4 linked regions of the Homo sapiens genome follow. The protein of the gene in region 1 purifies or fractionates together with the protein of each later gene. This does not show direct contact. Each region holds a gene or a part of one and is shown in the gene's direction. Other genes may lie near its edges.

What was found.
Region 2: the proteins of C16orf87 (region 1) and ANAPC7 purify together in Homo sapiens (affinity purification with mass spectrometry; 3 studies listed by BioGRID and IntAct, with this or other methods). This does not show direct contact.
Region 3: the proteins of C16orf87 (region 1) and ANAPC1 purify together in Homo sapiens (co-immunoprecipitation; 3 studies listed by BioGRID and IntAct, with this or other methods). This does not show direct contact.
Region 4: the proteins of C16orf87 (region 1) and ANAPC4 purify together in Homo sapiens (co-immunoprecipitation; 3 studies listed by BioGRID and IntAct, with this or other methods). This does not show direct contact.

The regions. Positions count from the first base shown.
Region 1 is NC_000016.10:46,821,179-46,828,204, reverse strand, and holds part of C16orf87 (UPF0547 protein C16orf87), read left to right. Parts: intron 1-3,722; coding exon 3,723-3,819; exon of another isoform or gene 3,820-3,825; intron 3,826-7,026.
Region 2 is NC_000012.12:110,379,685-110,386,710, reverse strand, and holds part of ANAPC7 (anaphase-promoting complex subunit 7), read left to right. Parts: intron 1-241; coding exon 242-384; intron 385-3,750; coding exon 3,751-3,868; intron 3,869-4,762; coding exon 4,763-4,959; intron 4,960-7,026. UniProt on the Homo sapiens protein: Component of the anaphase promoting complex/cyclosome (APC/C), a cell cycle-regulated E3 ubiquitin ligase that controls progression through mitosis and the G1 phase of the cell cycle.
Region 3 is NC_000002.12:111,818,168-111,825,193, reverse strand, and holds part of ANAPC1 (anaphase-promoting complex subunit 1), read left to right. Parts: intron 1-26; coding exon 27-63; intron 64-157; coding exon 158-228; intron 229-2,593; coding exon 2,594-2,772; intron 2,773-3,728; coding exon of another isoform or gene 3,729-3,740; coding exon 3,741-3,955; intron 3,956-5,771; coding exon of another isoform or gene 5,772-5,793; exon of another isoform or gene 5,794-5,905; intron 5,906-6,235; coding exon 6,236-6,354; intron 6,355-7,026. UniProt on the Homo sapiens protein: Component of the anaphase promoting complex/cyclosome (APC/C), a cell cycle-regulated E3 ubiquitin ligase that controls progression through mitosis and the G1 phase of the cell cycle.
Region 4 is NC_000004.12:25,373,075-25,380,288, forward strand, and holds the start of ANAPC4 (anaphase-promoting complex subunit 4), read left to right. Parts: upstream 1-4,188; 5' UTR 4,189-4,270; intron 4,271-4,343; 5' UTR 4,344-4,353; coding exon 4,354-4,482; intron 4,483-7,214. UniProt on the Homo sapiens protein: Component of the anaphase promoting complex/cyclosome (APC/C), a cell cycle-regulated E3 ubiquitin ligase that controls progression through mitosis and the G1 phase of the cell cycle.

The DNA.
Region 1 (7,026 bases):
TGTAATCCCAGTACTTTGGGAGGCCGAGGCAGGTGGATCACGAGGTCAGAAGTTCCAGACCATCCTGGCTAACACGGTGAAACCCTGTCTCTACTAAAAAATTAGCTGGGTGTGGTGGCATGCACCTCTGTAGTTCCAGCTACTCGGGAGGCTGAGGCAGGAGAAGTGATTGAACCCGGGAGGCAGAGGTTGCAGTGAGCCGAGATCGCACCACTGTACTCCAGCCTGGGCGACAGAGACTCCGTCTCAAAAAAAAAAAGTAAAAAAATCAGTGAAACACTATAGGACCAGATTTTTTTTTTTTTCAGATTTAAAAAATCCAGGCTGGGCATGGTGGCTCACACCTGTAATCCCAGCACTTTGGAAGGCCGAGGTGGGTGGATCACCTGAGGTCAGGAGTTCGAGACCAGCCTGGCCAACATGGTGAAACCCCATCTCTACTAAAAATACAAAAATTATCCGGGCGTGGTGACAGGCACCTGTAATCCCAGCTACACAGGAGGCTAAGGAAGGAGAATCACTTGAATCTGGGAGGCAGAGGTTGCAGTGAGCCAAGATCGCGCCATTGCACTCCAGCCTGGGGGACAAGAGTGAGACTTCGTCTCAAAAAAAAAAGATAAATAAATAAATAAAAAATCTGTTTTACTTGTAAAACATACAAACAACCTAAATCTTTTTTTAAAAAAGTGAATTAATGCCCAGTAAACTATCAGTAAACAATACTTTGAATATTTTCTTTTTTTTAAAATCCTGAAAGTGTAATATTAGAATTTCAGTACTGTTAGGTTTAGTATTATCAACTGAAATTTAAAGAAACTTTAGTGTGTTTGTTTAAAATCTAAATTATACTATAATTAATGAAATGAGGTTAATATTACTGAAGTTGTCCAACCTATTTGATAATTCTTTTTACAGGATCTAGGGTGGTGATGGTGGTGGTGGTGTGTTTTTTGTTTTTTGTTTTCCAGGGCAGAGGTTGTGGGGAAGGAACTTTTTATTTTAAATAGGACTATAGAATGAATTAACTCAGACTATAGAATGAATTAACTCAAACTATAGAATGAATTAACTCAGGCACATGAGGGTTTATTGAGCATAAAACACTTTCATTTGTGGATGAAAATCAACCTGTTAATTCAGTTAGTCAGTGTTTGTGCATTCTGGGTCCCAAAGCCAAATGTATACTTCTCATCTAACTGCAACACTGTTAATTCTGGAGATGGATTGATATGAAGTTCTTTTGTATAAGACTGAAACCCAAATTCAAATTTATTGAGTTTCAGTAGCTGGAAGAAAATGCTTGCTGATTAGGAAAGGAGCTGTTGAGTAAGAACATGCATTTGCGTATTTTGGATAGCATTAATTTAAAACAATTTACATTACTGTGGATGCCCTTAATAATATGTTTAGGTGTAAAGGAAATGAGTCAGTGCCTTTGAGCTTGGTTTCTATGAAGATACGAAATTTGAAAAAATGTCAGACATCTATTTTAGACAGATTTTACACTATTTAAAAAATGTAGCATTTTTTTTGTCGTGATTTGAAGGGATCTCATTACATTCTTAACAAAGCAAGCTGTTAGACAAATCTGGAGTTTGATTATTTTTATTGATTTCTTTGTTATTTTTCTTAAATACAAATTGGAGATCCTTTGTTCAATGTTTTTATACAAAGAAAAGGAATTATTCTGCCAAAATTTCAATTTAGCTCAATTAGATCAAGTGTTTAGATTCTATAACATGAGGCATTCTGTACATACATAGATAAAAAGCTTCATAATTTTAACTCAGTTTTTACATAGCAGAACAACTGCCAAATGGGGGAATTTATCTTACAAAGGGAATTGCAGTTTTCTTACTGTAATTATTCTGTAAATACTTTTTCGTTGAGATTAGTTTCAGACTTTTGGTGAACATGTCTTGATTCCAAGGATCATTAACTTTGATATGGGTGAAATGATTATGGGGAAAACTAAAAAATTTTTTCAATGATTTTCAGTAGCACTTGGCTTAAAAAACAGTTATAAGTTTGGAGTAGAGAAAGGAAATTTACGTATTTTGCAGATTTGGAAACAGAAGCTTGAAGATCTTAAATATCTTGTCCGGAGTCATTCCTGGAACTAAGATATAAGATTCTGGATCTAAATTCCTACCTTCTCCTACATTCTCTTTTTTTATGTCAGCATACTTTTGCCCCTCAAACTGGTTGTTGTTAGAAAGAATAAGACCTAATATTTGATAGCACAACAGGGGGACTATAGTTAATAATAATTTTTTTTTTTTTTTTTTTTGAGACAGAGTCTTGCTCATGTTGCCCAGGCTAGAGTGCAATAGTGCACTCTTGGCTCACTGCAACCTCTGCCTTCCAGGTTCAAGCGATTCTCCTGCCTCAGCCACCCAAGTAGCTGGGATTACAGGCATGTGCCATGACGCCTGGCTAATTTTGTATTTTTTTTAGTAGGGACGGGGTTTCACCATGTTGGTCAGGCTGGTCTCAAACTCCTGACCTCAAGTGATCCACCTGCTTCGGCCTCCCAAAGTGCTGGGATTACAGGTGTGAGCCACTGCGCCCAGTCCTATAGTCAATAATAATTTAATTGTACATTTAAAAATAACTAAAAGAGTATAGATTGTTTGTAACAAAAAGGAAGAATGCTTGAGGGGTTGAATACCCAATTTTCCATGATGTGATTGTTACGCATTGCATGTCTATATTAGTGTACCCCATAAACATGTACACCTACTATCTACCCACAACAATTTAAGAATTTAAGAAAAATCTGGTTGCTATAAACTATTCTTTATTCTTTGTCAGTGGTAGTTGATATCTTCTCCTCTCATGTTAGAATCCTGAGTTATTTTCACTTCTTCCCACTTTATCACCAGTCATCAGTTTGGGCCTTTGTCTGTTTTTCTTGCCTTGGAAACTCTGGCAGATCTACCTTTTTCCATTTCCGTTCTCACTATTCCACTTGGTCCTTCATAATCTTTTACCAGGATTACTTTAATGACTTCCTACCCACTCACCCTTTTCAAATTTGTTCTATACCGTAAAAAGCTGTCAAACTAACATTTTAGGAAATGCTACCTTTTTTTCCACATACTTCCCCTTGCTCTGACCCTATTACAGTTTTCTATTGGTCACTCACATCAGTGCATATTTAATACATATTTATTTTTTATGGTATTGGTATGGTATAGTCTTCATGGTTTTGTTAAGCAGTAGAAGAATATGAGTATCAGGCCGGGTGTGGTGGCTCACTTCTGTTATCCTAGCACTTTGAGAGGCTGAGGTGGGCGGATCACGAGGTGAGGAGTTCAAGACCAACCTGGCCAATATAGTAAAACCCCATCTCTACTAAAAATACAAAAATTAGCTGGGCATGGTAGCGTGTGCCTGTAGTCCCAGCTACTTGGGAGGCTGAGGCAGAAGAATCACTTGAACTCAGGAGGTGGAGGTTGCAGTGAGCCTAGATCATGCCACTGCACTCCAGCCTGGGTGACAGAGTGAGACTCCGTCTCAAAAAAAAAAAAAAAAGAATGTGAATATCTATGTGATATGATACTCATCTCAGATAATTTGTTGTAAGGAGTTGAGGTTTAAATAAATACATGATTCCTCCTTCAAGTAATTTATCATTCATTTGAGGAGACCACATAGACACTGAGAAATTTAACAATAGAAAAATAGTAATAATATATATTTTTCTTTTTTTCCTACAGGTTCCTGTTGCATGTAAATCATGTCCTTGTGGTTACATATTTATTAGCAGAAAACTTTTAAATGCAAAACACTCAGAGAAATCACCACCTTCTACAGGTAACTGTGAGTTTAATACATTTTTAGCTTTTTGATGTAGAAATGTAAAGTTAATTTTTGTGAAGTTTCTATTTACATTTTTTGTTGAAGTTAAAAGTTTAAATCTATTCAAGTGTTTTTGGCTTTTATTAACTATTGGAATTAGTTTACGACGTTGGTTTCATGTGCATTCCATTTAAATGTTAAGTCCCTTACAATGCTGATAACGCTTGTAACAAATTTTTTATTTTTGAAGGTGGAGAACCATTGAAAGGTTTTAGCAAGGGAGTGACCTGATCTGATATAAAAACTTTTTAAAAAAATAGCTTTAGTAATAATTGACATTGAGTAAATTGGATGTATTTGAAGTGCACAGTTTGATAAGTTTTGACATATGTATATACCAATCAATCACCACAATCAATATTATGAACATTCATCAATTTCAAAAGTGTTCTAGTTCCCTTTGTAATCCCTCCTTCCTGCTACCTCCACCCCAGGTAACCACAGATCTGCTTTCTGTTACTGTTCGTATTTATGGAATCATATAGTATGTACTCTTTTTTGCCTGGCTTCTTTCACTGAGTGTAATTATTTAGGATTCAGCCATGTTGTATGTACCAATAAGAGTTCATTCCTTTTTATTGCTTAGTAGGAGTCTTTGTATGGAGATTTGTTTATCCATTCTCCTGTTGATGGACATTTGAATTTTTTCTCTCATAATGGTGGTAAAATTTGCAGCAACTTTTAAGTTTTGTTTTTTTTTTAAACTAGTGACCGTTGAAAAATATAGCTTGGTTTTGGTATGAAAAACGTTTTTAGACATGTTGACTATGTTTTACAGTTCCCTGACTGAGGATATCCAAATAATGATTTTGTTTGAACTTGTTGCTTTTCCATTAACGTAGACAAATTGGATTTATTCAATAGACATATTTATTAATATTAAAAGATACAATTTTGTTACTTATTCTTGGCTAAAAGCAGACCTTCATATGGTGGTGACCTCGAAATAAGAGTAGGTTCATTACAAATATATACTGAGCACCTGCTATATGCTAGACACTATTCCAAGCCTTGGGCACAAAGCACTGAATTCTACTGTTAAGGCAGATTTACTGGTGTCATGGAGCTTATATTCTTGTGGGTGGGAGATAGACAGTGAACAAATATACAGAGAAAATGTAACCTTGTGATAAATGCTTTATAGTCCTATGAAGTGACTGGAAGGCTACTTTTGATTGGGTGGTTAGAGAAGGCCCCTATGAGGAGGTGACATTTAAATGGAGTCTCAGTGGATAGAAGGGGCTAGCCATGATAAGATCAGGGAAAAGAACATTCTTGACAGATGGAAATAGCAAGTGCAAAAGTTCTAAGGTTGGAAAACATTTTTTATATTTTAGGAACAAAAAAGACCATTGCGATTGCAGTGTAGACAGTATGATTAGAAGAGTGGAAGATGAGTTCACAGGGCTAGGCAGAGGCTAGATTGTATAGGGCTTTGTAAACCAGAGTAAGAAGTTTGGATTTTGTTTGTAAACTGTGAGGAGAAACTGTCCCTGAGATGGGGTGGGATGAAGAGAGGAGAAGATGGCATCCTCTGATTTGAGTTTTAGAAAGATCATTCTAGCTGCTGTGTAGAGAATAGTTTGTAGGGGTACAAATATGGAAGTGGATTATTGCAGTAGGCTAACTAAGAATACTGAGTTAGACAAAGACTGATGATAGTAGCAGATGATTCAATAATAATTTTTATTTATGTCTGAGAGGTTTATTTATCTTAGGTCTATATAGAAGTGGCAGGAAACTTGTTTAGTTCCATTTCTGTCACTGTTTCAGTTCTCTTCTCATCATGAGAATGAACATAATTCACTGGTTCTTAAAGGCGGTTGCTGGGTTGGCTGTATAGGATTCATGCAGAGAACTTGTTAAAAATGCATTTCTGGATCTTACTCTCTGAGAGTTTGGTTTAGATAAAGGAACCCTGAAATGATGATTCACTCGGTAGCTATTTTGGGGTGGCGTGTCAGCTCAGTGCTGAGTTTCTAAAAATGAATAAGACATGGTCCTTGTTCTTAGGGAGACAAAGTGCTTATTTTTTTAATTCAAGTATTTTTGAGCTCCTTTTATGTACCAGTGATTCAGATGAGAAATGAGTTAAGAAAGTCAACAAAGATAAAAGAAGGAACAGGGCCAGGCATGATGGCTTATGCCCATAATTCCAGCATTTTGGGAGGCCGAGGCAGGAGGATCGCATCAGCCTGGGAAGTTGAGGCTGCAGTGAGCTGTGATTGTACCACTGTATTCTAGCCTGGGTGACAGAGTGAGACCTTGTCTAAAATAAAATGAAAAAAAGGAGGAACAGATGATACAAGTGTTAATGAGTTGTTAAGTTTAACCAGTTAAACCAGAGGGAAGAATTTAGAAGATTCCCAGATCTCTGACTTGGATTGCTAGTTAAAAGAGAATATAAGAGGGAAAACAAGCTGTGGGGGAAAGATGAAGAATTTAATTTTGGGTATAGAAACATCATCCGTGTAGATTTTTTTTTCAGTTGGACATATAGTCTGCAGCCTCAGCTGCAGGTAAAACTTTTGAGCCATCAGTGACTAGATGGTAGTTGTCATCATGGAAAATGGATGAGCTCGCGGTGCAGAGTTTGTAAGTTAGGAAGAGGAAGGCATTCAGGGACTAAACTGTGACAGACACCAATTTTACAGACAGGTCAGATCAACTAAGAAGAAATGTCAGCTGTAGGAGAAAAACCAACAGCACAATGTTATGTAAGTCATGGCGATGAGTTTTAAGAAGCAATTCATTATTATTTTGTATTTGGAGTTTCCTGAGATTTCCTTGTTTAGTAAGAGTGGTCTTTTGACTTTGAAGTGAAGATGAAACATTGAAGCCCAGAAATCCCTGCAGGAGGAGGAAGAACCAGCAACAAAACCAAACCAGAAAGGAAGGAGAAACATCAAGGATAGGCTGTGCCATAGAAACCACAGGAGGAAAAGATTTTAGGGAGAGGATTAAGAGTATTCAAAGCCTCAAAAACAGTTTGGTAGAGTACAGACGTGGGGGTCAGAAAACCTGGCTTCAGATTCAGATTCTGTCCCTTTCTAAGCAGCCTAGTTAACCTCCATGAGCAACTGTTGTTTGTTTATAAGATAGATTTATAGTACCAGTGTTAGAGGATTGAAGTACATATGAAAATGTCTAACATTTGCAAAG
Region 2 (7,026 bases), on another chromosome or scaffold:
TCTGAAGAACTGCAACCACAGAGTTATTTGTTGGTACTGAGAGACTTCTGCTTTATTCTTTGTTTTTGCTATCCTGTCCTATATAACTTTTTTTAAAGTCATAAGCTTAAAGTTTTTTATTACGAAGAATTTTATATTTATGCAAAAGAAAATAGTATCTGTATGACCAATCATCCAGATTCAGCAACTAAGAGGATTTATAATAGATTTAAAGGTTCAATGTTTAATAAATATCTTAAAGTTCACTAGAGAAAAAATCCTTATTGCGAGATAACGTGGACCTATTGGGAAGCTTGGCAGATCTGTACTTCAGAGCTGGAGACAATAAAAACTCTGTCCTCAAGTTTGAACAGGCACAGATGTTGGATCCTTATCTGATAAAAGGTAAGTAATTCTTGGGGCAGGAAGACAGTGGCTGTTGTTGGGGGGGATCAGAGATAATAGGGAGAATATGCAGCATTAATACTCGATACCAAGTTTCATAGAAATGGTGTATAAAACTTATACTAGTCTTTTACTTTTTTTAGGTCATGACACATGTCTCTAACGCTTAGGTAATACCATTTGAGCAGCTGTTTTTGCTTGAATTCAAGTGTCTTCTCCCCACAGATCATTATTTGGCTTTTTTTCTTTTGAGGGGGTCATAGCTCCTCCTTATGACTTATAAATTTATGGTGTGCCTGACTGAGAATTTGGATGGCATCCCTAAAACCATAATATCCTTTTAGGGAATTTTGTTTTGCCATGTCCTTAGTATAATTAAAAAGGAATAAGAAAGGGATAAGGTGATTAAAGGCAGTAATTAGGCGTGAACAACAGAAAAATCACTGATCTTGAAAAAGATTGCAGGTGAAGGGTAATCTTCACAGGGACCTCCAACAGATGGCAGTTAGGACACTGGCAGTGAGTTCTCAGGAATAGTGGGAAATAAGGTCAGATAGATATGCTGTCTATTTGTAAAGGTCCAAAAAAGGCCATCAGAAAAACAGGGCCTTGTGACAATAAACAGTCTTATGAGCTCTTAAGCCAGGGGAATGATGGAGCTGGGAAGGGGCCATCCCAAGCGTTTAGATGAGGAAGCAGATCTAGAAGGATGGATTTGTTTGCACAAGATCTCCCCTCACCTCAAGTGCTTATTCCTCTTCTCCAAGCTGCCTGCACCCATGATGAAAATGATGTTTTAGAAATACTAGTCTGGCAACAGCTGGCAGCTTGGAATGGCAATGGCAGCTTGGAATCTCAGACCCAGGCCCAGGGGCTAGCAGGAGCATTGCAGTAATCTTGGCTTGAGAGGAATTTTCATGGGAATCTGAAGGGATAGCAAGGGATGGAAGAGAATGGTGGCAAGAGATGGGTAACAGTGAGCATAGGTCCCTTTTTATAGAATGTGGGTGAGAATAAAGCGGGGGCTGCGGAGAGGCAGTGATTTTTTATTTGTTTGTTTGAGACGGAGTTTCACTCTTGTCGCCCAGGCAGGAGTGCAGTGGCACAATCTCTGCTCACTGCAACCTCCGCCTCCTGGTTAAAGTGACTCTCCCACCTCAGCCTCCCGAGTAGCTGGGATTATAGGCGCCCGCCACCACACCCAACTAATTTTTGTATTTTTTTAGAAGAGACGGGGGTTTCACCATGTTAGCCAGGCTGGTCTGCAACTCCTGACCTTAGGTAATCCACCCGCCTCAGTCTCCCTAAGTGTTGGGATTACAGGCCTGAGCCACTGCACCCAGCCCGAGGCAGTGATCTTTAATGAACTGCATTCTGGATAGAACTACAAGCTTTTTTCTGGAATAGGCCAACTTTTTCTGAGACTGATTGGCTTTTCAGCAGTGTATTTCTGATGGTCTAGAACTCTGGGAAGAGAGACCTTAGTTGATGCCTTTTTTGGGCCTTTTCTGGTTGGGTTAGGGTAGCTGTGTATCACACCACAGGATAGAAGGACAAGCACTTCCTGAAAATAGCAGGCTTTCAAATTGTGAGGTAGGTTGTTCTGCTCCTTTGGTTTTTTGTTTTTTTTGTTTTTTTTTGTTTTTTTTTTGTGAGACAGAGTCTCACAGGCTGGAGTGCAGTGGTGCAATCTCGGCTCACTGCAACCTCCACCTCCTGGTTTAAGCAATTTTCTGCCTCAGCCTCTTGAGTAGCTGGGATTACAGGTGTGTGCCACCACGCCTGGCTAGTTTTTGTATTTTTAGTAGAGATGGGGTTTCACTATCTTGGCCAGGCTGGTCTTGAATTTCCACCTCGGCCTCCCAAAGTGCTGGGATTATAGGCATGAGTCACCGTGCCCGGCCTCCTTTGGTTTTGGTTTTGGTTTTGTTGTTAGAGACAGGGTCTCACTCTGTCACTCAGGCGGGAGTGGCACAAACATAGCTCACTGCAGCCTTGACCTCCTGGGCTCAAGCAATCCTCCTGCCTTAGCCCCCTGAGTAGCTGGGACCACAGGCATGTGCCACTGTGCTTGGCTAATTTTTTTTTCTTTCTATTTTATTTTACTTTATTTTATTTTATGTTTTAGACATAGTCTTACTCTGTTGCCCAGGCTGGAGTGCAGTGGTGCAATCTCGGCTCACTGCAACATCCGCCCTCTGAGTTCAAGCAATTCTCCTGCCTCAGCCTCCCGAGTAGCTGGTATTACAGGCGCCTGCCACTGTGCCTGGCTAATTTTTTGTATTTTTAGTAGAGACGGGGTTTCACCATCTTGGCCAGGCTGGTCTTGAACTCCTGACCTCGTGATCCACCTGCCTCAGCCTCCCAAAGTGCTGGGATTACAGGCATGAGCCACCGCGCCTGGCCCTTCTTTTTTCTTTTTTTTTTCTTTTTTTTTTTTTTTTTTTTTTTGAGACGGAGTCTCGCTCTGTAGCCAAGGCTAGAGTGCAGTGGCACGATCTTGGCTCACTGCAACCTCCGCCTCCCTGATTCAAGCGATTCTCCTGCCTCAGCCTCCTGAGTAGCTGGGATTACAGGCACACGCCACCATGCCCAGCTAATTTTTGTATTTTTAGTAGAGATGGGGTTTCACCTGTTAGCCTAGTCTCGAACTCCTGACCTCGTGATCTGCCCTCCTTGGCCTCCCAAAGTGCTGGGTTTACAGGCATGAACCACTGCACCTGGCCACTTGGCTGATATTTTAAAATTTCTTTAGAGACAGGGTCTCACCATATTGCCCAGGCTGGTCTTGAACTCCTGGGCCCAGGTGATCCTCCTGCCTCTGCCACCCAGAGTGCCAGGATTACAGGTGTGAGCCACCACGCCCAGCTGGGTTTTGCATTTTCTTTTTTTGAGACAGAGTCTCAGTCTGTCACCCAGGCAGTGCAGTGGCGTGATCTCGGCTCACTGCAACCTCTGTCTCCCTGGTTCAAGTGATCCTCCTGCCTCAGCCTCCCAAGTAGCTGGGATTACAGGCGCGTGCCACTATGCCCGGCTAATTTTTTGTATTTTCAGTAGAGATGAGGTTTCACCGTGTTAGCCAGGATGGTCTCGATCTCCTGACCTCGTGATCCACCTGCCTCGGCTTCTTAAAGTGCTGGAATTACAGGTGTGAGCCACTGTGCCCAACCTGGGTTTTGCATTTTAATAGTCACTTTGTAGGAAACTGGAAATAGTAGTTGGAGGAGCCTGTGATGGTGGAAAGGGCTTAGCCCCTGCAGGAGCTGGGGCCTCAGCATGGGGTCTGATGTTGGGTGCTACTCCTGTATGTGGGACCCCTGCTTCTCTTCTTAAAACACCTCTTCTCACTATGTCCTTCTCTTCTAGGAATGGATGTATATGGCTACCTACTGGCACGAGAAGGGCGGCTAGAGGATGTTGAGAACCTTGGATGCCGCCTTTTCAATATCTCTGATCAGCATGCAGAACCGTGGGTGGTTTCTGGGTATGATTATGCATTCTCTTTTCTCCCCAGTTGTCAGTAGATTAAGAGATAATGGTTGCTCTTGAAGAGAATATAAATTGAAAGCACAGGTTTAAGAGGTAATCACCTGGACAGGCATGGTGGCTCATGCCTGTAATCTCAACACTTTGGGAGACTGAGACAGGTGGATTGCTTGAACCCAGGAGGCAGAGGTTGCAGTGAGCCAAGATCGTGCCACTGCACTCCAGGTGGGCGGCAGAGTGAGATTTTGTCTCAAAAATAAATAAATAAAAATAAAAAGAGGTAATTACTTGAGGCCAGAAATTTGAGACCAGCATGGGCAATGTAGCAAGACCCTGTCTCTATAAATATATATATATATATATATATATATATATATATTTTTTTTTTTTTTTTTTTTTAAAAGGATAATCAGCCCTGGATTCAAATAATAGTTTATGACTCTGGATGCATTATTTACCTATCTAGGTCTGTATTCTCATTTGGAAAATGGGCTAATAACCTCTCCTTCTAGGGTTAAGCATTAACTGAGTTGGTGAATGCATTGTGCTTAGTACTGAGCCATCAGTGATGGGGCCAGAAGATGCTCCTTTGTTTATTAACCTGGCTTTACAAATTCTCTGAATGCCTCTCTGCTAATAACTAATATCCAGATCATAGGTTCTTTTTCATAATTTTTCTCTTCCATATCAAGATTTCCCCTTAAAAATAAATAGTGGATTTTTTGGTTTGTTTTGCTTTTCTACTAATATCTTAGGTTAAAACTATAAGTGTGGTTTGGAATAAGGATTATGTTCAGGGCCTTCAATATGATTTTTGGATCAACTTTCTTTGTAGTCTTCTCTTGGATAACTTCTGGGGTTTTTGTGTTTTTTTTTTTTTTTTTTTCTCCAGCTGTCACAGCTTCTATAGCAAACGCTACTCCCGGGCCCTCTATTTAGGAGCCAAGGCCATTCAGCTGAACAGTAATAGTGTTCAAGCTCTGCTACTTAAGGGAGCAGCACTTAGGAACATGGGCAGAGTCCAAGAAGCAATAATCCACTTTCGGGAGGCCATACGGCTCGCACCTTGTCGCTTAGATTGTTATGAAGGTAAGAAAGAAAACATAGGTGAATGGTGTGAATCCGTGGGTGTGGCAGCAGCCCTCAGATGGAAGGTTTCATTAGGCCAGCACTTCCCAAACTCTGTTAGAATAATCTGGGGAAGCTGGCCGGACGTGGTGGCTCACACCTGTAATCTCAGCACTTTGGGAGGCCGAGACGGGCAGATCATGAGGTCAAGAGATTGAGACCATCCTGGCCAACGTGGTGAAACCCCGTCTCTACTAAAAATACAAAAATTAGCTGGGCATGGTGGCTCACACCTGTAGTCCCAGCTACTTGGGAGGCTGAAGCAGGATAATCACTTGAACCTGGGAGGCGGAGGTTGCAGTGAGCCAAGATTGCGCCACTGCACTCCAGCCTGGCGACAGAGCAAGACTCCATCTATTAAAACAACAACAACAACAACAAAAAAACATCATCCGGGGAAGCTTTTCAATATCCTGACGTTGGGTCTCTCCAGTGTAGATGGAAATACATGGAATTGGGAATAGACATCGATATTTTTGGAGGTCCCCAGGGGTTACCAATGTGCAGACAGGTTTGGGAACCACTGCATTAGGCATTTTACATTTATTTAGGGCTTTCACTGGATTTGTCACCCCATACTTTCATAATCCATTTTTTCTGATTTTTTTTCTGGTTTTTGGTGAGGGTATAGTTGGGATGGGGTTTTTTTTTTTTGTCCTCCCACCGCTCGCCCCCATCCAGTGTGGCGTACTCATTAATATGAATCTCTCTGTGTCAGACACCATGCAAGATCACTTAGTTTGCCTATTTTTTTTCTCTTACTCCTCTTTTTTTTGAGACAGAGTCTCGCTTTGTTGCCCAGGCTGGAGTGCAGTGGCATGATCTCGGCTCACTGCAGGCTCCACCTCCCGGGTTAATGCCATTCTCCTGCCTCAGCCTCCCCAGTAGCTAGGATTACACCTGGCTAATTTTTTGTATTTTTAGTAGAGACAGTGTTTCACCGTGCTAGCCAGGATGGTCTCAATCTTCTGACCTCGTGATCCGCCCGCCTCGGCCTCCCAAAGTGCTAGGATTACAGGCGTGAGCCACCGTGCCCGGGTCCTGTTTTTTTTTTTTTTTTTTGAGACAGAGTCTCGCCCTGTCACCCAGGCTGGAGTGCAGTGGCATGATCTTGGCTCATTGCAACCTCCACCTTCCGGGTTCAAACCATTCTCCTGCCTCAGCCTCCCAAGTAGCTGGGATTATAGGCGCCCACCACCACACCCAGCTAATTTTTGTATTTTTTAGTGAGATGGAGTTTCACCATGTTGGCCAGGCTGGTCTCGAACTCCTGACCTCGTGAGCTGCCTGCCTTGGCCTCCCAAAGTTCTGGGATTACAGGCATGAGCCACCACAACCGGCCTATTTTTTTTATTTTTATTTGAGATAGAGTCTCACTCTGTCACCCAGGCTGGAGTGCAGTGGTGCAATCTCAGCTCACTGCAACCTCCACTTGCCGGGTTTAAGTGATTCTCCTGCTTCAGCCTCCTGAGTAGCTGGGATTACAGGCATACACCACCACACCCAGCTCATTTTTGTATTTTTAGTAGAGATGGGGTTTCGCCATGTTAGCCAGGCTGGTCCCGAACTCCTGGGCTTAAGTGATCTGCCCAATTCAGCCTCCTAAAGTGCTGGGATTACAGACGTGAACCACTGTACATGGCCTGTTAGGCCTATTCTTTTTCGTGGCCATCTTACCTTGGGCCAGAGTTAGTACTCGTGGGATAACTCCACATCCATATGATAGTGTTGGCTGTGGGAATGGGTCTGTTCATTGTGACCTCCAGAGTGGGCACAATCAGGGTCCAACTTTGTTTTGTTATGTAATATTTTAAGTTCATGTGAATTGACCCTGGGAGTTCAAAGGAGCTGTGCCAGTTTCAGCAACGTTTGGTGACTCAGTCACAGACATTAAAATAGATCTTACAAGATGCAGTTCCTCCAAAACATATTTTTATAAGCATTTAAAAATAAACCTAGGAGTCTAGGAGTGATTTGCTCTTAACAGGAAGATGAGTTCAAATTTGAGAAATAAAATTTGGATGTTGG
Region 3 (7,026 bases), on another chromosome or scaffold:
TTAAGTTTCATTTTGTTGCCTTTTAGCCCCCCAGAAGTTGCAAGTAGAACAAGAGGAAAACAGGTGACTTTTATTTAGACTGTGCTTTTATGTCAAACACTTAAAACAATATTATTTACTGTTCTGCTTAATAACTTTATGTTTTATTCTCTTATAGGTTTAGTTTCAGGCATTCTACATCTGTTTCTAGTCTAGCTGAAAGATTGGTTGTCTGGATGACTAATGTAGGTGAGAGCTTCTTTGTTACCTCCTAACTAGGCCGTGCTTCCTCCAGACTAGCTAGAAGTGGAAGGCATGAGGAGAGAGGGGCTCTGGCTTTGTGAAAAGGCCTCACAAGATTGAGATTATGGTTCATCAAGCCATATTCTTTTTTTCTCGACAATCTCACAACTTTCATATAATAATATTTGGGATACCAGCTTTTTATCTTGATGCATAAGGAATCTTTATTTGCCATTTAATTGGAACATTTGAGGCTGTGGCTATGTAAGCTGGTCTCTGAGAATGGAGAACTCTAATCACCTACATACACACCTGAAATCATTGTGATACTCAGATATCAGAAATGGGTGGTTTTGGCAAAGTCTAAAAGCAATAATATAAACATTTCAGGGTATACTTTTGAAGGATAAATGCACTTTTGAAGGGATTTCAGGCACCAAGATGAACATTGAACTGGGAAGAGGAAGAGGAAGGAAAAGAGTTCTATATTCCCTATTCCCCAAACCTATGCTCCTAGGTTTTAAATTAAGTAAAATACCAAAGAAATTTTTTTTCACAAAGAACTGAAAAACAAAAATTACTGCCACGAAGACATGATTTTAAAAATGAGGATGTTATATGGGATGTATGTTAAAAAGTAAAGTTTTAATGAATATTAAAAGATGTTTTTGAAGTCTTATCTAAAGTATGTTCTAAATGAAGTTTCTGACAGGTTTTTTTTTTTTTTTTTTGCATTTTACCTTAAAAATGACAATAACTGTTGCATAGTATACATACAGGATACCTATGCTGAAAAATATTGGATTAGTTCTATCCATTTGTATATTGCATAATATTTAATAAGTGTTATTCTCATATAAGGAAACATTTTTTGCCTCAATAGTTAATCGACTTTTTATATTATAAATAATGCATAGTATTATGAAATTTAGAAAATCATAAGAAAAACATGATTTAATTAACCTGAGGATAAATTTAAATATGAAATATGGTATACTTACAAAATAATATGTCAAACGTATATGTTTAGTTTAGAGAATGGTACTAAAGTGAGTATTGATGTACTGGTCACCCACCCCTAGAAATAGAATATTACCCGCATAGTAGAAGGCCCTTACATATCTGTTCTTGGATGGTCCCCTCCTGTCACACACCCCAATGTTATAGTGAACCACTGCCCTACCTACATTTGTGTTACCTTACTCTTGTTTTTCTTTATAGTTTTACATCTTTATAAATTGCTAGGTCTTATGTAGTTTTGAAAATATATAGATGTAAATATGTGTTCCTTTTTCTTCACTCAACTTTGTTTTTTAAAGATTCATCCATGTCGACTCATGTAGCAGTAGCAGCGGGCCATTCATTTTCTCTGATATAGAGATTACTTTGTTTGAACATATCATAATTTAATTACCCATTCTATTGATGATAGACAATCGGACTCACCCCTTTCTCCATCTCTTTTTTTTTTTCCATAACAAACCAGTATTGCTAATGAATATTTTTATACCTGTGTCTTTGTACATGGGTATAAGTTTCTATATGGCTGTTGATGGATCAAATGGGTGGATTGACCTATACATACCAACTGTTTTCCAAAGTGGTTGTACCAGTTTACACTACCATTGGCTATGGATAAGCATTATTGTTGCTTGGGCCAGGCGCGGTGGCTCATGCCTGTAATGCCAGCACTTTGGGAGGCCGAGGCGGGTGGATCACGAGGTCAGGAGATCGAGACCATCCTGGCTAATACGGTGAAACCCTGTCTCTACTAAAAAAAAAATTACAAAAAAAATTAGCCGGGCATGGTGGCGGGCGCCTGTAGTCCCAGCTACTCGGGAGGCTGAGGCAGGAGAATGGCGTGAACCCGGGAGGAGGAGCTTGCAGTGAGCCAAGATCGCGCCACTGCACTCCATCCTGGGCGACAGAGCGAGACTCCATCTCAAAAAAAAAAAAAAAAAAAAAAAAAAAGAATAAAAAGAATTATTATTGCTCTACATAGTTGCCAACATTTAGTATTGATTGGCTTTGACATTTATATTTCTCAGTAGCTTTAATTTGCATTTTCCTGATCCCTAATTAGGTAGAGCATCTTTTCATATGCATGTTGCCCATTTATGTTTCCCCTTCTAGGAAATGTCTTTTTGTCCTTTATATTTTTCTATTAGATTGTCTTTTTTTCTTCAGGTTTTTACAAGTTCTTTCAAAGAGACTTCCTATACTAGTCCTTGATGTCAAGACATTAGTCTGGTAGTAAGATGAATAAAATGAACTTATTTGTCAGGATAGATATTGTTGCCAACTTCAGTCAGGATAATTGGGACAGTGGCGAGTCTAAATTAAAATTTTTCTCTCTTCCTTTAACCATTAGGATTCACTTTAAGAGATTTGGAAACTCTTCCCTTTGGAATTGCTCTTCCCATCAGAGATGCAATTTATCACTGTCGTGAGCAGCCTGCCTCAGACTGGCCAGAAGCTGTCTGTCTCTTGATTGGACGTCAGGATCTTTCCAAGCAGGCCTGCGAAGGAAACTTACCCAAAGGGAAGTCTGTGAGTATCAACATAGAAAGTTCAGAGTTCCAATTTTAGCCTTAAATAAAATCATAAAGTAGAAATGTTCTTCATTTTCCTTTAAGGCTTTTTCTAAGTATATATATTAGCTTGTCTTTTATATTATATGCCAGACGGGGTTTGTAATTGTACGCGTCTTATTAATTGTTAAGATGAGCATTAGGAGCAGGAGATTTTGTGAATGTTCTGTCTTGTGCCTGGATCTTTCTTTGCCTTGAATCAGGACAAGTCCTGAGGGTAGTCATGGAAACTACCATGGCTATTTCCCTACTTGTACCATATTAGTAATTAACCACTTTGTAATTATTACATAGGAAAAGGGAGAGCACATATATCCTGAATTTGGATGAGTAATTATATATAAATATTTTCTACTGCATATTTTTTGATGTGTTGAATTTTTTGAATTTAACCTTTTAAATAGGTGTAAACATATTTGTTTAATCACATAAAACTGCAGCCCCAGGGAAAAAATGTGTTTTTTTCAGTAGAGTTGTTTAAAAACATGTCTTAAGCTATCCCTCCCGAAATACTGTCTTTCATCAATCATCAAGTCTGTTTTTTTTTTCAAATGAGTTCTAGGAATCCTGCAAGTAGAAAGTTAAATTATTTCATTACTCTCCAATTATCTTTTTAAATCATCCTCACCATGTTGGCCAGGCTGGTCTGGAACCCCTGGCCTCGGGTGATCCGCCCACCTCGGCCTCCCAAAGTGCTGGGATTACAGAGTGTGAGCCACCACACCCGGCCAGCAATATAGTACTTTTTAGAAAGATTTGTAGATTAGAGTCCCAGTATACATTGCGGCTCCAACCCATGCCTGCTTTGGAAAACATATTTTCTCTGTGCTAGTATAGTCAAGACACATCAGCCTATATATCCTCATGTTCAGCAAGTGCATGTTAACTGCTTTTGAAATTATTATTACAATAAAGTCTGTTACTCAGGTGCTCTCATCAGATGTTCCTTCAGGAACAGAAACTGAGGAGGAAGATGACGGCATGAATGACATGAATCACGAGGTCATGTCATTAATATGGAGTGAAGATTTAAGGGTGCAGGATGTGCGAAGGCTTCTTCAGAGTGCGCATCCTGTCCGTGTCAACGTAGTGCAGTACCCAGAGCTCAGTGACCACGAGTTCATCGAGGAAAAGGAAAACAGGTGAAAGAAAACACGTGCACTATCTCTTGTCATGTTTCATTGTTACATTTGTGTCTTGTGTATATTTGTTTTTCCTTCAAGTTTTTAGCATTTAAAACCCTAAAGAGATTTAAAAGATACTTTCAAGTGAAAATATGCCCTGTGTTTTAAGTTTTCATCCAACTTCAACAAACCACGTGTGTTAGCAAAATGTCTTTGGCTTTTGAGGACGTAATTGTTGTATTTCATATCGTCCTCCTCTTGAAATACATATAACACTTTACTCTTTAGAAAAGGTGAATGTAAAACTATTTTGCCTGATAGTTACCTTAAGAATTTACAAACAAAGAAAACACTGGACTTGTTTTTCTGTGTCTTGATCAGGAATAGATTTTGAGGTTAGTGGGGTTTTTAGTGTAGTTTAAACTTGTATGAGTATTTTTTTTTTTTGGATATGATAGATGATACTCCAAATAAAAATAGATAAGCCTTTCTTCTGCCACTCCCCTGCACAGGATACATCCCTTGATACATTATAAGACTCACATGCCTATGACATTCCAGAGCTATTCTCTTGGGACACTTCTGTTTTAAAATTCTCTCCTGTTCTTTTATCTGCTTGTCTCTATCATCTATCATTCATCTGCCACTGTTTTCTAGTTCTCTTTACTTTTTTTATGGTACTGTTTTGAGGGGAACCATCACCCACACTTAGCCACAGGCTGCTGAAGATCTGAATTAGTTGTGATTTCCCTATTAACTGTTTCCTCTCCACATGTACCCAGTTATTAGTCACCTGTGAATAAAAAGATGGAGTGACAGAAGTTGAGTTTAGAGCATAGGATTTATGAGCATGGCCTCTAGAGCCAGGCATGGCCATGCTGTGCTGGGTGACTTTGGTTAAATTACTTTACCTCTTGTTGCCTCAGTTGCTTCATTTGTAAAAGTAGGCATACTTCATGGGATGGTGCTGTGTATCAAGTGAATTATTTTTACATAGCACTTAGAATACTGCTCAATACATAGTAAAGCTCAGTGCAGTCAGCCATTATTAGTAGTAGAGTTCATTGATTCTAAGATGCAAGTTTTTTCACTTTTTAATATCTCTGAAATCAGTTGTGTATTTCAGTGAACAGGTGTCATAGTTTAATTGGCAGTGCTTTTTCTTTCTTAGTTTCTCATGAAATAATGATACATCTTATCAGTGGCATCTTATATTCAGGGGATATAATATTGTTCTCATTATAATTTTGTTACTTGCGCAAAGTTGAAGTGAATTATGTGTAAGATTTCCTCTAAAAAAATTCTATGGGTTGCAACAGCCTCTTGGCTTTGAATTTTCCTGATCCCAAATTAATGTTGCGGTTGTGTTCCCAGAGAATCTTTAAGACAGCAAAATTTTTCTTTCCAGTTAGCTAGAAAAGCAGTTATGTGTGTCCAGTTAAGGAGGGAGTATGCTTATGAATAGCTTTGTCTGCAGAGAAAATGTTTGTCAGTTGTCAGCCTCTGAAGGGATATTTCTGTGTCTTCAGATATAGCTTGTATAGGCGTTTCTTAGTTATAAATGCCCTACTTCCAAAATTTCTGTTAGTTTTTTTTAAGTGGCTATATGGAATGTTAAGCTATTTTAACATAGGAAGAAGTTGAAGAGTGGTGTATTAATTTCACAGTAGAGCCAACAGAAACCATTTTAACCTTGAACATACCTGATACATAATGGTATTAGTCCTATAAATCTAGCCATCATGTAAGTGAAACCAATCTGTATTTCCCTTGGAGACACCATGAAATCCATTCACCTCTAACACAAGGACCTTGTTTCTTTTCTTGTGTACAGGCCACAGAAATGGTACTTCTGAGGCTGTATTGGCAAAAGGGATGGGAGGAGGATCCCACATGTACTGAGGACAGCTAGACTGAAATTAACACAGTGATAAAAACCCCAAAAGTACTGTATTTTCCTTTGAGAAGGTTAGCATCCATCGGAGTGGAATTTTAAATTTCTTTTTTTTTTTGAATGCCTAGAGAGAGTCGGCTGGGTTTATAGGCCAGGTGGTTTTCATTCAATGTAAATATGAAACAAAACAGAGGAAATATGTCTCTCCCTAAGAGTGTAATAGGAACAAGAATATTAAAATGAAAATAATCATGTTTGGGTAGTTCACTCACATCTGTGTATGAATTTACTTTGAGACAACTTCATCTTATACAGTACACCTTCTTTTGAAATACTTACAGATGATATTTCAATTGCTCTTTGCTTTAAACATTTTCATATGTTGGTTTTTACTTTAATTACAGATTGCTCCAATTGTGTCAGCGAACTATGGCTCTTCCTGTAGGACGAGGAATGTTTACCTTGTTTTCGTACCATCCTGTTCCAACAGAGCCATTGCCTATTCCTAAATTGAATCTGACTGGTATGTTAAATTCTGGGCTCAATGAGAAAGGAAAATGATTAAGTACATGCATTAAGTGTAGTTCTTTAAATTAGTTAAAACAAAAGAAATGCTCCCTCTATCCCCAGTGATTTAAAATTTTCCTAATAGCTGCTGTAGTGGTTATCAAAGCTCAAATGCCATGTGAAACTAAACTTTGAGAGAAGCAGAATATAGTTCATTACTCATTTTTGCTTTTTAATGAGGTGATTTTAAGATCTAAAAAGTCACTTGGAGAAGTTCAGAAAGATATTATTGATAACGATGAGACTTGAATTTTAAATAATCTTAAGTTTAATATGTAAAAATATTTAGTTTTAAAATGTCTTACGTCATAGTTTAAACAGATGATCATTGTATAAATCAAGAAATGTACTAAGCAAAAAGAGAAACAATGGTCGCTTGCAGTACTCCCACTCTTCTGCATCACTCCTTTTAACATTTTAGTATATATGTTTACTAAGTTTATTTCCACATATTTATAATTTTATATTTGTTTAATTATCAGAAAATTTATATCTATTTTAGATTTTTTTAAAAATTTACAGTGAACATCCTTTTATATCTAGCAAATAAATGTATGTGTTTATAATTATGTGTATGTATTGTATACACGTGTTTTTAATCAATACATTCATTTTTATTTGCTTCAGA
Region 4 (7,214 bases), on another chromosome or scaffold:
CAAAGGGTCCTGGTCAGCTGCCACTGCCTTCACAATGTCCCTGTTGGTCTCTCCACTGGAGTAGTACATCTGTTGCCAGAGAAATAAAAATGTCAGTTTGTGTGTTGTTTTTATACTTCTTTTATGGTACTTAAATCATGCCTTGTATAAGAATGACTTTATATACTTGTTTAGCCCTGTACAGATTAGAAGCTCGTTGATGGCAGTGCCTGTGGACATCATTGTGTTTGCTTACTAGGCACATGCCTTTTCTACGGCGATAGAGATGACCAGCCGCATCACCTGTGACCTCAGTTAATGGGAAGCAGGCAGCCAGGCTAACACATTTCTTCACCATCTAGGTAGTAGGTGCTCATAAATACCAACTGAGTGAACGGAAATGCCATTTAATATACCGCTTTATGCCTCACACCTTAACTATACTATGGAAGAAGCAGATACACTTCGAGCTCTCTAGGTAGGACAGCTTCCACAAAATCTAAAGGAAAATCCAGTTTCACTTATTTGATGTGATTTTAGTTGGACCATGAGGACCTGGGCTGAAATTAAGGGTCAACTAAGAAGGTCATTGCAATAAAGTAAAGATAAGATCTCTGCTATTTGATTTCAGGCAATTTAGTATAAATGTTAACTCAGCAAGATGAGGCTATAATAGCACCAACATTGAGCAACAAGATCTCAGAGCCCTGAGAGGCTGAGTTTTATCCCAGTTGTCTTTGGTGGAACAGTTAGTTACAAGATCCCTGGTTTAACTGCTTCATACCACTGGATACTAGAAGAGGTGAAACAGCCGGTAATCTCTAAGATGGTAGGCCTGAATAGATGGGTCAGTTTCTTCATCTGCAAGTGTGGAGAGGAGGAGTGGGAGAACACTAGAGGAAGTCAGCCCAAATATTCCACATGCTTAAAGAAGACAGGCCAGGTGCGGTGGCTCACACCTGTAATCCCAGCACTTTGGGAGGCCAAGGGTTGGGGGGGGGTGTGAAGGGTGTGGATCACCTGAGGTCAGGAGTTCGAGACCAGCGTGGCCAACATGGTGAAACCCCGTTTCTACTAAAAATACAAAGCCGGGGATGGTGGCGGGTGCCTGTAATCCCAGTTAGTTACTCGGGGCAGGATAATCACTTGAACCCGGGAGGCAGAGGTTGCAGTGAGCCGAGATCACGCCATTGCACTCCAGCCTGGGCTACAAGAGTGAGACTGTCTCAAACAAACAAAAAAAAAACAGAGGAAAACAAAGGTTGCTGCCTGTTAACTTTACAGTTAATACATGAGCCAGGTAAATCAAGGAAAAATAAAAGCATCTCTAACCCTACCACCCAGAGATAATCACTATTATAACTTCCCTGTCTACTGTTCCAAAGATAGGTTCTTGCATAAATAGGCTTACAGACACATGCAAAAATTTCCCTCAAGAAAATGGAATTTTAAGTACATACTGTTTTATGACCCATGCTTTTTCATAAGTATACTGTGAACATCGATTTATGTCTGCATAATATTCTTCAGGATAGATATATTTTTTAAAAATCTATGATGGGACATCTAGGTTGTTTGCATTTTTTCACTTTCGTAAATAACCTTATAATGAACATGCTTAAGTAAATATTTATTTCTCCTGCCCTTGCCTCCTTAAAAAGCACTGATAGCCGATCCCTGAGCCTTCTTCCCTTTTTCTCTTTATTCTGCAGTATTTTCCTAAGGATGGGGGAGGCAAAAAACGGAGTAGGTAGAGCTAAAATCTTTATGGGGCAGTGGGAAAAAGAAAAGGCTGGAAACACGATGTGTTAATATTTCTTGTCTTACGGCTACTTTGGATCATTTCCAAGAACAATTCCTGCCCCTTACTGCCTACCAACACACATGAGGGTCTATAGCAAGCTTGTCTAACTCGCAGCCTGTGGCCCAGGAGGGCTTTGAATGCAGCCCAACACAAATTCATAAACTTTCTTAAAACATTGTGAGATTTTTTTTGTGATTTTTTTTTTTTAGCTCATCAGCTGTCATTACTGTTAATGTATTTAATGTGTAGCCCAAGACGATTCTAATGTGGGAAGACAAAAGATTGGACACCCCTGGTCTATAGCAGCATAAAACTCTGCTGTTTCCTGCCCACATCTGGAACTCCACACTTAGGCTGTTTCCTTTGCTGTAAGGCTTAGAAAATTTATATTCTGTGAAGACTTAATGTGCAGGTGGTTATACTCTGTCCTTTGCAGTACGGTGTTTATGCCTCTGGGAACAGTGATTTTCACGTGCTGTATGGGTGTTTGTATTCAGGTAAGTTCCAGGAAAATGGACATTCAATTTCCGTAAGAAGGTTAATGTGCATAGATACTAGACCCCCACCAGGTGATCCATTATAACTGCCCCAAAACACTAACACCTGAAAATGCATTTTGTGAAAAACAAAGGCAAATGCATTTTTACCTTAGAAATGTTGATTCTGGAAGAGTTGGGGGCACTTGGTAAGTTGTTTGTGGCAAAGGCAAGGGCTGCAAAGCCCGTGACAGGAAGCAGGGTAGGTATAAAGTCAAGGATTAAGAACAGTACTTGGCACAAAATAGTTACTTGATGCTGAATGAATTAGTCTCCCTCCGTCATCTACTTCCCAGGGGCTAGATCCAGACAGAGGTCAAGAAGATGGGGCCTGTTGAAAGTTAAAGGACCTGCCGTCTGTTTCTTCTTTGAACAAGTGAAAGGTAGTAAAAAGTAGATGGCTTTCTACCATAGGTTTTAAGTTTAAGAACCCTAGGATGGTACTGTCACATTCTCTTAGGGAGGTCATAGCTGTGGGAACTGTCAACAGGTTGACTCATTTAAATGTGTCCTACATAAAGCAACATCAGATGAGTTCTGATTTACAAGTCTGCCAGGCTGGCCTGTGAGCCTCTGGGCAGAGTTCCCGTCCCATGCATTGCTGTAGCCTCAGTTCCTCCACATAGTAAATGCCCAAGTACCTATAGAAGAAATCGTGTGTGAGCCCACACTCTTTTTTTATATTTTAGAGACGGAGTCTGGCTCTGTTGCCCAGGCTGGAGTGCAGTGGCACAATCTCGGCTCACTGCAAGCTCCGCCTCACTGCAAGCCCCGCCTCACTGCAAGCTCCGCCTCACTGCAAGCTCCGCCTCCCGGGTTCACGCCATTCTCCTGCCTCAGCCTCCCCAGTAGATGGGACTACAGGTGCCCGCCACCATGCCTGGCTACTTTTTTGTATTTTTTAGTAGAGACGGGGTTTCACCATGTTAGCCAGGATGGGCTCTATCTCCTGTCCTTGTGATCCGTCCGCCACGGCCTCCCAAAGTGCTGGGATTACAGGCGTGAGCCACCGCGCCCGGCCCTGAGCCCACACTCTTTATTCGTTATGACGGTGCTGCAACTACCAATAAGTTGTGAGGGTTAAATGGGATGAGATGTCACAGTATTATTTGCCTGTTAGGGAGGTTTTAGGGCACGCGCCTCTTCTCTCCAAATTGGAATCACCCAAAGAGTTTTAGTAAATACTGGGCCCATCCAGGGTTAATTTTCTTCTAATTGGTTTGGGGTGCTGCTTGGACAGGGGGACTTTTAAAATTCTATACTGACCCACCAGGACTGACATGAGAACTACTCGCTTAGTAACTGTTAGAGGAGGCGCCAGCTGATCAGGACCTAAAGTTCATATTCTTTTTCATCTCCCCGTTGTCGCTGAAGCCTACCCCATAAACCCCTACCGTCCCTTTGCCCACAGCAGAGAATTTCCGGGAAAACGGGAAAGGTATGCAAGCATGCCCACACACGTGCACACACGGGTTCCCAAAAGACCTGCGTGTGGCCGCAGGGGCCTGCCCCGCCCTTCTCGGGCCCTTTCAGGTCCCGGCGCCCAGCGATCCCACCAGCACCTGGGTCCGGCGCGCGGCTCCCTCCCTCTCCGCGCCCCTCGGGGCTCCCTGCCCCGCCCGCGTGCCCCACCCTTCCTAGCTCTGCCCCATCGCTGCTCCCTGCCCCGCCCACGGGCCCCATCCTACCCCCACCTCGATCCGCCCCTCGCTCCTCCCTGCCCCGCCCACCGCGCCCCGTCCCTGTCCGCCCCTTCTGGCTCTCAGCACCCCCAAGACCGGTGCGCGCCCCGCCCCTCCTCCTCCTCTCGCGAGGCAGTCCCGACGCCGGAAGTGCCTGGAGCGCGCGACAGCGGCGGGGCGGGGCGGCCTGGAGGCTGTGGCGCGCGGCCGGCAGAGGGAGGGGAGAGGCCACTGGGGCCGTGTTAGTCTGCCGGTGGGGACTCTTGCAGGTACAGGCGCGGTCGGGGCTCCTCGTGGAGAGCCGGGGGCTCCTGCCGGCCTCTGACTGGGGTGTCGTTGCAGGGCCGTCCCCATGTTGCGTTTTCCGACCTGTTTCCCATCCTTCCGGGTGGTGGGAGAGAAGCAGCTCCCGCAGGAGATTATTTTCCTGGTCTGGTCGCCCAAGCGGGATCTCATTGCTTTGGCCAACACAGCTGGCGAGGTGAGTGAGCCGGCGGGAGCCCGCCTGTGCTGGGTCTGCTCCCGGGGGGCCCAAGAACACCGAGCCCGAGCCTGTTCATTCGGGCCACAGGCGGCCGGAGCCTCAGTTTCCCCTTCTGCAGACATGGCTGGCCACCTGCTACCCCTTCCCTGCCTCCCAGGACGGCAGTAAACTTTAAGTATATATGCGAAAGGTGATGTCTGTGCTATTTTCGGTACTTTTATGGCTAAAGTAACAGTTTTCACACAGCTTAACACCGTCACGCAATCCTGCTTCCCCAAGTCTTCTTCACTCATTGGTTTATTAGTTAAATGAACTTTTTAAAAAAGCCCACTATGTGCTGCTCATGAGCTAGACATAATGGTAGATGCAGGGACCCTGCCCTAAGTTTGCTTACAGTTTTAATAGCAGTAGGAAGAGTTATTGTCAAACTTCAGCTGCAAATGTGCCTGCATGTAGCTGCCACACAGGATATATTTAAGAACCTGGCTTCTCTTGTCCACGTTTTATAGTACGGGTTGGATAACCACCCTCCACTAAAAATACCTCTAAATTGGACAAGGAAGGCATGCATTGGATTCCAGACAGAACGTGCATGGGTGTTATCAGCATTTCTTGTTCACATAAAACTTCATCGAGTATAAACCAGTTGTACCCAACTTTCTGCTGAGAGTTATTACCTGCCAGCCATTTTGTAAGGAAACCTTCACCTGTGCATCTTTCCGCCTCTGGCTTGAGAGTTATCTGGCCATGTGAGAGTTGTATAGAGCCAAATTTGGAAACTAGGTGATAAGGAAATCTTAGCACCCTGCAGACTGTAGTCTGCACCATGTTATCTACCATGATCCAGTCGCCAGGGTATTGATGTCTAATTTTTCAGGGCCCTCCATGAAATCTAGCTAGTCTCCCTCCGCTGCCGGGATGCTTTGAAACTCTGTTGTGGCTCTAGAGAGCAGCAGGTGGTACCGTCACAGAAGTAGGAGGGAAGGTAGACGGGAGGCACATCCGTGCAATCAGATGGGTAGGCGTGATAGAGGGCACTGTTACATCCATTTTCTCAGTGAAGGAAGAAGCAAGGGCATTGTTTATGGGTGAAGATGGAGAAGAATATATTGGAAGTTTGAGGAGAAAGAAGAGGTATGAAAAAGCTAACAAAGCAGGTGGACTTGGGAAACCTAATAGGATTGCCAGTCAGTGTTAAGACCCACATGAGATCGGTGTTATTATTTGAGAGACACTGGTTGAATAAGGTTGTATGTGTCTCTCTCCGTTCTGTTTGGCTGTGTGGGTGCAGGCATGGTTGGGTTTAACCAGGATTGTCGTTTTGCAAGTATGACAAAGCAAGGCAAAGATGAAAGAGAGTTGAAGTTACGTGCAAGAGGAGTGATTGTGTTTCTGAACTTTGGGTTCTAACCTGATGAAGGAGGGAAGTGAAGGCATGTGTGGGGAGAGGGACAGTGAACAGGTGGTAGAATCAATAGACTGTATCCTGGTGAGGTCAAAGAATTGGAGTTGAGTGTTGTAGAGATGACCTGGAAAGAGGGGTGGTGGATGGAAAGTGGGAAGTTTAAAATGGAGATTTTGGTGGCCCTGCAGTTGTTGGTAATGACCAGGCCGGAGGTGTGACCCTGGGAGTGGCTGAGTGCAGTAGAAGATGTGATCACTGGAGGAGAGGTAATTGAGAGCTGAAAAGCCAGGACATCATAGCTCTTGAAATCACCAAAAATGATGATGAGTGTGTTGTTAGAAGGCATGAGCAAGCCAGGTATCCAGATCTTTAAGGAATGAGGGGAATGGCCTAGGGGTCTGTAGAGGACTGCAATTAAGACGGATAGCGAGTGGTATGGTCTGATTGCATGTGATTCAAAGTTAGGAGATTTACAAGAAGAGAAGAAATGGCATCAAGCATCAAGGAAGACACCTACTTCATCTCCTAGCCCAAAAGCAGCAGTACAGGGGCTGTGGGATACAAAATGGCCACCACCTAGCAAGGCTGCAGGGAAGCATTGTCCTCAGGTGAGAGGCACATTTCAGAGAAAAGTACGAAGATATTAATTTCATGATGACACCTGACCATGAGCTGCAGAAAGCACAGAGGAAGGGTTTCAGAAGTAAGGTATGGCAGGAGTGGTTTCAGAAAAGAGAGGGTCAAATCCAGGGGATGTTGTAACCAGGAGTGAAGGGTGCTGTGAGCTGTGAGATAAGGCAGGGTCATGGTGGCTTAGCTGAGTGTGGAAATGGGGAGGGGTCTTGGAGGAGCATGTGCAGTGGTGAGGCCTTTTCTTCCTTACTGTCAATGGTTGTATAGAAGCTGCAACGGGGCAGTCATAGAGCTCTTGGGCAACATTTTGACCTTCCAAGGTGGGAATTTACTGATGTGGAAATGGAGATTTAGAATGGTTAAGTGATATGTCTAAGATCCATGGCTAGTGAGTGACACAGCTGAAACTAGGTGCCACGTGGACTAATTCCAAGCTTAGTATAATTTGACTGTATTACAGCTAGCTACCTTTTTAGTGGTGTTTGTGTTCTTTTATTTCTTTTTTGGTTGTCACCTTGGACAGCCGCCTTCTTTATAAAAGGTAAGTCTCCCGTTGACATAAAAGATTAGGTACAGGGTTAAATTAGACCTTGTTTCACCCATTTATTTTAAAATACCTTGTGTTCATTCAGACACTGTTGTCTTTTTCTATTCTTCTGATAGCTAAGTATATATGAGAGATGGTCATTTA